Homo sapiens: one gene and its partner. The protein of the gene in region 1 interacts with the protein of each later gene in a pairwise test. Each region holds a gene or a part of one and is shown on either strand. Other genes may lie near its edges.

Region 1 (3,812 bases):
CAGGAGCTTCCCTGGGCAGAGGTAGCGGAAGCATGACAGAGCCTTCCAGGAAGCAAGCAGATTCCAGCATTAGAATCTCACTAGACTCAGGGCTGTTTTATTCCCTATTTGTTTTGGGATGGCCTGGCTGTAAAAGTGTCAGGCACTGGAAAGTGCTAGGGACCACAGGAGTTGGTGTGAAGGGCAGGGAGCTCAGCTGGTTGCCAGTCGGCTTCTCTTCTTACTCTGCCCTTATGTATCCAGCTGGTCTTCCGGCCTCAGTTCCTCTCACCATAAAATGAGGAATCCAGATTGTTTCAAAGGATGGTGCTACCTGCTCTTAATGTCAGCAAACTCAGAATAAAAGGGAAGGAGGGTGGATGGTGACAGGTTCCCCCAGAGTCATAGCAGAATTGTCCACTTGAGGTAGTGGCCTAAGGAAGGATGAGATTTTCCACCTTTGACAGAGAGAGCCTCTCTCCCCCTACTGCCCCAGGATGAGCTCTGTTTGGGATGTGAACTGAATGATCTCTTTGACCCCAAGATGCTACTGCTGTCTAGATAGATAGGGCAGTAAACACTCAAGTTACACTAGGAGCCCAAATGTCTGGAACCCCAGTCATTCATATTCATAGTCACCTAGAAAGTTGTCTGTGATGTGCTTCTGTATCTCTAAGTTGATTCACACAGGACATTAGCGTTGGCTCCATCTCTGCCTCCCATACTGCAGTCCAGGCAGGGACAAACTGCAAGTGCCACCCGCCAGCCCAGGCTCGGCCGGGCCCCTCCTCTCTAAGCAGCAAGACAACTCCCTCTTTTGGAATGACCTGCTCTTGGGTCAAAACTCACAGGGTAAGTCTCAGGGCCAGTGTGCCCACCAGGAGGGCCTGGCTTGGGAGCCCCAGGCCAAGCCACGGGAGGCCACACCCACGGCCTCAGACACAGGAAAACAAAGTAATGTGGGGTCTTTCGCCTTGAAAACCACACACTCAAAGCTAATCTAATAAGGTATGTTGATAAGTTGTTTCAGAACAAGGAGAACCTAGGATAAGTTACAGCACCAGAAACCTGCCAAAACCAGGACCTACAGCTAAACCAGAAATAGCCTCATTAACTCACTGTGTTCCCCTTTGTTTTTCAAGTGAATTTTCTTCGCTCACAGAAGATTTTACTACCGGATAATTTCTCCAACATTGATGTATTAGAAGCAGAAGTGGAAATTCTGGAAATCCCTGCACTCACTGAAGCCGTAAGGTGGTACCGGATGAACATGGGTATGTCGCCAGGAAACCTTGGCTCCCCCTCGACAGTCTTGGCTTGACCTGGAAAAGCCAAGAACAATCTTCCCTCCCACAATCACTTCGGGCTTTGGGGGTTAGTGAGAGGATTGGGTTTTCTGGCTGACTCTGAATCCAAGAAGAGGATTCACAGCCTGAAACCCTGTGTGCTGCCCTGCCGGCTCAGCCTTCCCACTGAGGGTGGGGAGTGGGCAACCAGCCAGGGGTGTAGAAAGCCCAGCCCAGCCTGGATCAGGAGGAGCCCAGCCTGGGTGGGGAGCCAGGCTGGAATGTCCTGGGCCTGAAGGCAGGCTTCTCAGGGGCAGGGGAGGTCTGCCCTGCTTGTGAAAGTGGTGGGGACTAAGAGCACCCACCAGCCACTCCCATCCTTCCTCTTCCAGGCACGGTTGGAGGTGTGGGAAATGCTCAGTGCTTCATGCATCTCATCCACCCCCAAATTCCCTCGTCACCTCACGTGGAAACCCCCGGCTGCTGTGCCTGTTTCTGCCTATTCCTGACGCTTGCTGACCCCTGTCCAGCCTAGGCCTTCGTGCTCCCAGCCCTACCTCATTCCAGCTTGTTCTTCCCCTCATGGTTTCCTCAGGGCTGTTCATCATTCCATTTCCCAACTCCACCTCCATGGAAGCTACTGTGCATGTTATAGGGCGCAAGCTACCTGAGCATGGCTTCAGCCACCATCCCGAGAATGTGTAGAACTGCATTGCACATGGGAAGTTTGGCCTGGACATCACCAGACATTTATCCCATGGCAATCAGGCCTTTCCTTATCTTCAGGCATAGATTTCCCAGCCTTCTCCCAGACAAATAGAAACCCATCCTCTTGGCCAGGCGCTGGTGGCTGATGCCTGTAATCTCAGCATTTTGAGAGGCCAACGCAAGTGGCTCACTTGAGGTCAGGAGTTCGAGACCAGCCTGGCCAACATGGTGAAACCCCATCTCTACTAAAATACAAAAATTAGCCGGGCATGGTGGCACGCACCTGTAATCCCACTACTTGGGAAGCTGAGGCAGGAGAATCGCTTGAACCCAGGAGGTGGAGGCTGCAGTGAGCCGAGATCATGCCACTGCACTCAAGCCTGGGCAACAGAGTGAGACTCCTTCTCAAAAAAGAAACCCATCCTCTTTGTGGGGAGTGGCATGCTCCAGCAGGTCTCAGGACCCTGTCCCAGGGCCTTATAATCCGCTTAAGATGGTGTGAGTTCAGCCCCTTCCCTCAAAGCCTTCTACTCCTCAGAGAACATAGATCATTGTGAGATGGTAGCGTAGTCCCTGCTCCACAGAGCAATGCAAAGATGGAGGAAGTGTGTTGACAGCCAGGCTCTGGGAGCTGGCAGCACTCCTCAAACACAAAGGGTGGCTTTAGCTTTCTACAAAGCATCACAATAAGGGAAACAGCTGTGGTAACCTTGGAGCTGGACAGAGCTGACCTCAAATCCTAGCCCTGCCCCTGCCTAGCTTTGCAGTTTAGGGCAAGATACTTCATTAGCCTCTCAGGGCAGGTTCTTCAACGTGAAATGATGATAGCACTATCCCCTCTTGCAGGGTTGCTCTGAGGATTGGAGATGATCCACGAACATCCCCCAGCAGTGTGCCCACTGGCACATTGTTGCCACGGGAGCAGGGTCCTGAAGGCTGTGATAACTGTATTCTCTGGACTGTACCCTAGGCCCACTATAGGAGAAAAAGGTCCCATCCATAAACCAGCAACCCAAATACCCACCCTGAAAATAATGCCACACAGTATGTCTCTGGGGGAAATTCTGCCCAGGAGAGCCAGCAACAGGGGCTGTGAATCCAGGAAGCCTGTAACACACATTGAGTTTCCAGGCCATGGTTGCCGTTCTTTACCTTTGGATGGTTACAGAAGAGCTTGGAACTAATGAAGACTCCTGCAGAGGCTAGGGCCAGATGGCTGCTTTCCTGAAACTTAGGAAATTCAGATGCTAGTGATACAGCAAATGAATCCCCCCACTCCCAACTCACCTCCCAACAAATAGTTATGACTTCTAAGCCTGAGTATACAAAAAAATTATACTAATTTTGAGAAGATCTTGATTTGGACTGTGCAAAGAAATATCCTTCCTCTGAGCCTCCTCGGTACAATGGAGGCAGCAGTAGGAACCGAGCCCCAAAGCCTCCAATCCAGCTATGACCATGGGGGGCCTAGGAGTCACCCCTTTCTCTCTGACACAGGTGGCTGTTCCCCGACCACCTGTTCTCCCCTGAGCCCCGGGAAGGGGGCCCGCACAGCCAGCCTGGAGTCCGTGAAACCGCTCTACACAATGGCCCTGGGTCTGCTGGTCAAGTACCCGGACTCTGCGCTGGGCCAGCTTCGCATCGAGAGCACGCTAGACGGAAGCCGACTGTACATCACAGGGAATGGCGTCCTCTTTCAGCACGTCAAGTGAGGTCCTCCTTAGGGCACACTGAGTCCCATCACCCTTGGCTCTGCCCTTCCCTCTAGGAATAACCTGGGGCCTTTCCCACTAGCCAGAGGTGAAGTGTGTCCTTGGGGCCAGCCCATCATTTTAGCCA
Region 2 (3,812 bases), on another chromosome or scaffold:
CCCTGTCTCCCCTGTCTGCCTTCCAGTGTCCCCCAGGCCCAGACTGAGCAGGGGGTCAGTGAGGGTTGGAGCAAGGTGACGCTGTCCACTCCTGCTTTGTAACCTCCTGCTGGGACCCCGCTCGGCTCTCTGAAAGCTGCGCCAATAGAAGCCTGGAGTAGAGGAGAGGGCAGTCAGGACTGGGAGGCAGGGAAGCCTTTAGGGGGTGACAGAGGACTGAGGAGGGAACAACCAAGGGCGGTCAGGGGAGTGACAACCGGGATCTGATGAAGAAAGAGGAGCCCAGAGATGCGGATGCTATGATCCTGTTCCAAACCAGTACTTCCTGGGGAAACCAGCAAGGCAGGAGAGCAGGCACCAGGGTGAGCAGTGGAGCAGGCACCAGGGTGATGGGCACGAGGGAGGCAAGGGGAGCCTGGCTGTGGCCGCTGATCTCAGGAAGTTCAGCATGGTCGGAGAAACCAGACCTGGGCTTCCTGTCTTCAGTTTATAAAGTGCTCTCTCACAAACGATCTAATCAGAGACCCCTCACAGCCCTGGGAGGAGCCTCATTTGACTGACAGAAACCAAGGAGCTGGAACACCTAGCCCTACCCCTAGCCCAACCCCTCCCCAGGAGCCAGTGGAGGGGCCGAGGTTAGAACACAACCTCCCTTCCCAGGACCCAACTCTCATCGTACCCTTTCTCCCCAAAGAAACTAGTGTAAGAGATCCATTGGTAAATCCCAGGACAGAAAGCGGGAGCAGTTGCCTCAGCTCGGCAGAGAAGGCTTCCTGAGGGAGGGCAGCCTGGTGCAAAGCAAGAACCGAGTAAGGCAGGGAACAGGGAGAAGCAGGTGTCAAGTGTGGAGGCAGCCATGAGCTCACGGATGGGGAAAAAGAGGGTAGGCAGTCTGGCTGGCTGTCTCTGGAAGGTCCCAAGGCCACATGGTGTTCACCTGCCTCCTCTCCTCTCCTCTCCAGATCTTTCTCCGGGGAGTCAACGAGCCCCTGGCCAACAACCCCAACCCCATAGTGGTGATTGCCCGGGTCGTTCCCAACTACAAGGAATTTAAGTGAGTGGGGCCCAGGTGGACCTGGGTGAGGAGGGCAGAGCAGAGGGCAGAGGAGGGGGTGAGGCTGTCATTGCTGCCATGGGCTGATTCCAGGACCTCCGGCAACCCCTCTACCCCTAAGGCCCTTCAAGCCTCTCCATTGGGTCTGAGGTCCCAGTAAGCTTCCTGCAGCAGACCATGCCTTTCTTTCCCCAGGGAGAGCCCAGGCCCCTGGAAAGGGGCAGCTCAGTCCTCTCCTGAGAGCAAGCTGGAGGGCAGGTGGTGGGGATGAGTGCCGATACCAGGCCTAACAGCTAGAGAGTGTGGGGAGGACAACAAGAGGGGTCCTCATTCCCTGCTCAGGGAACCTCAGCCCCTCCAACCTGCCTCCCTGCCTCACACCCACCACCTCCCCACTCCCCCTCCCACTCTAGCTCAGGGCCACAGGCTCCAGCCAGTGGTTGGCCCCAAAGGCCATCTTGGAACTTCACAGCCTTTAGCCCTGCCGGGCGGAGTCTCCTCCCTCCTCATCCTGGAGGTCTCCCTGGTCCCAGCCACAACTCATCCCCTCCTCCCCTAGACCTCCTTTTGAGTCTGTTGGAGTCACAGTCCTCAAGAGGAGATTCATACTTTGCCACACAGTGGGAAATTCCCCTATGAACGTGTGCTCTCTGCCACAGCACCGACTCCTGGGAGTCAGGGTCTGTCTTGGTCACTTCCAACTGGCCCTGATGGCCCAAGATGACTCCCCTACTTCTCTGTATCTCCTGTTGAGTTTTTATGACTTATGAAGCCCCCTTGCTTGTTGGAGGAAGGAAGATGATTGATGCACGCCCAGCCCAGTGGTCCCCACTTGTCGTGAGGTCCAGGCCCGAACTCGGCGGGATCCCTGCAACTCCCTTCTCTTGCATCAACCCAGAGTCTAAGCGGGGGGCCCTGGGCTGCCAGGCTCAGGTGCAGAGCCCAGAGCACTGACCCTGTCTCCCTGCCTCCCCAGGGTCAGCCAGGCTAACAGGGACCTGGCCTCTGTGGGGCTGCCCATCACCCCACTGTCCTTCCCTATCCCGTCCATGATGAACTTTGACGTGCCTCGCGTCAGCCAGAACGGATGCCCTCAGGTATGTCTCCTCCCCAGTGGTTCCAGCTTCCTGTAACTACCCCACACATTCACTGTTCACTCACTCAGTGAGTCAGTCAGCAGTTCCCTTGACTATCGAGTAAGAGTTGACTGAATCCCACGGCATACCCAGTGCTGTGCTCGCCTGTGCGGCAGAGAAACTGCCCTCCAGGAACTCTTGGTCTGGTGAAGATGGGAGTCACGTGGGTGAAAAAGTTGAACATCAACACAAGATAATGTATAATCTAATAACAAACTGGGAGGGCCTGTCAGGGCTATCACATCAGAGGAGAAGATACAAAAGGACAAATATATGATTCCACTTATATGGGATACCTAGAATAGGAAAATTCAGAGTCAGAATGTAGAACAGTGGCTACAGGGGCTGGGGAAAGGGAAGAATGGGGAGTTACAGGTCATAAGTACCTAGTTTCCGTTTCAAGTGATGAAAAGTCCTGGAAATAGATAGTGGTGATGGTTACACAACAATACGAACAAATGAATGCATTTAACATTACCGAACTGTACATTAAAAATGGCTACAATGGTGAATGTTGTGTTACGTATATTTTAACCCAGTAAAAAAATTTTTTTTGAGACAGAGCCTCGCTCTTGTCTCCCAGGCTGGAGTGCAGTGGCGCAGTCTTGGCTCACTGCAACCTCTGCCTCCCGGGTTCAAGCAATTCTCCTGCCTCAGCCTCTCGAGTAGCTGGGCTTATAGGCACATGCCACCATGCCTGGCTAATTTTTATCCTTTTAGTAGAGACAGGGTTTCACCATGTCGGCCAGGCTGGTCTCGAACTCCTGACCTCAGGTGATCCACCCGCTTTGGCCTCCCAAAAGGCTGGGATTACAGGCATGAGTCACTGCGCCCAGCGAAAAATTTTTTTTAATCAGAGGAGAGGGATGTAAAGCCTGGATTAGGGAAGGCAGTCTTGAATTTTTTTTTTTTTTTTTGAGACAGAGTCTTGCTCTTGTTGCCCAGGCTGGAGTGCAGTGGCACCATCTTGGCTCACTAGCAACCTCCGCCTCCCAGGTTCAAGCAATTCTCCTGCCTCAGCCTCCCAGGTAGCTGGGATTACTGGCACCCGCCACCATGCCCGGCTAATTTTTGTATTTTCAGTAGAGATGGAGTTTCACCATGTTGGCCAGGCTGGTCTCAAACTCCTGACCTTGTGACCTGTCCACCTCGGCCTCCCAAAGTGCTGGAATTACAGGCATGAGCCACTGCACTCAGCCGGCAGTCTTGAATTTTTAACAGAGGAAGGGTTGGTACAGGTTGGACACAGCAATAGCACAAGTGTGAGGTGGAGACAGGCAGGCTATGACCCATGTCAGGGCAGACAGGAGGGCTGTGTGTTTGAGTATGAGGTTGGGGGCGGGTGCACGCACAGAACATGGCTGGGTTCAGGGGAATAGCCAGATTGGTCTCTTCTCATGATCTGCGCTTCACTGCCAGCTTGCCCTACACGATGGTCCCAACATTCCTAGGGGCCTTGGGGGACAGAGGGATTTTTGGAGGTCCCTCCTATTGTCTGCCCACCAGTGCTTATGTCTGGCATAGCAAAAATAGAACAAGACACCCCTTTGGAGCCCAGGCTTCATTTAAAGGCAAAGACATTTGAAGAAGGCTCAGACATGGGGTAGAGTGATGGTGGTGGG

What was found.
Region 2: the proteins of KCTD19 (region 1) and CCDC33 interact in a two-hybrid assay, tested with the Homo sapiens proteins (one large-scale study listed by BioGRID).

The regions. Positions count from the first base shown.
Region 1 is NC_000016.10:67,299,232-67,303,043, reverse strand, and holds part of KCTD19 (BTB/POZ domain-containing protein KCTD19), read left to right. Parts: intron 1-1,121; coding exon 1,122-1,253; intron 1,254-3,470; coding exon 3,471-3,681; intron 3,682-3,812. UniProt on the Homo sapiens protein: Transcription regulator which is essential for male fertility and for the completion of meiotic prophase in spermatocytes. Regulates progression of the pachytene stage of meiotic prophase and promotes the transcriptional activation activity ZNF541.
Region 2 is NC_000015.10:74,270,741-74,274,552, forward strand, and holds part of CCDC33 (coiled-coil domain-containing protein 33), read left to right. Parts: intron 1-962; coding exon 963-1,054; intron 1,055-2,030; coding exon 2,031-2,151; intron 2,152-3,812.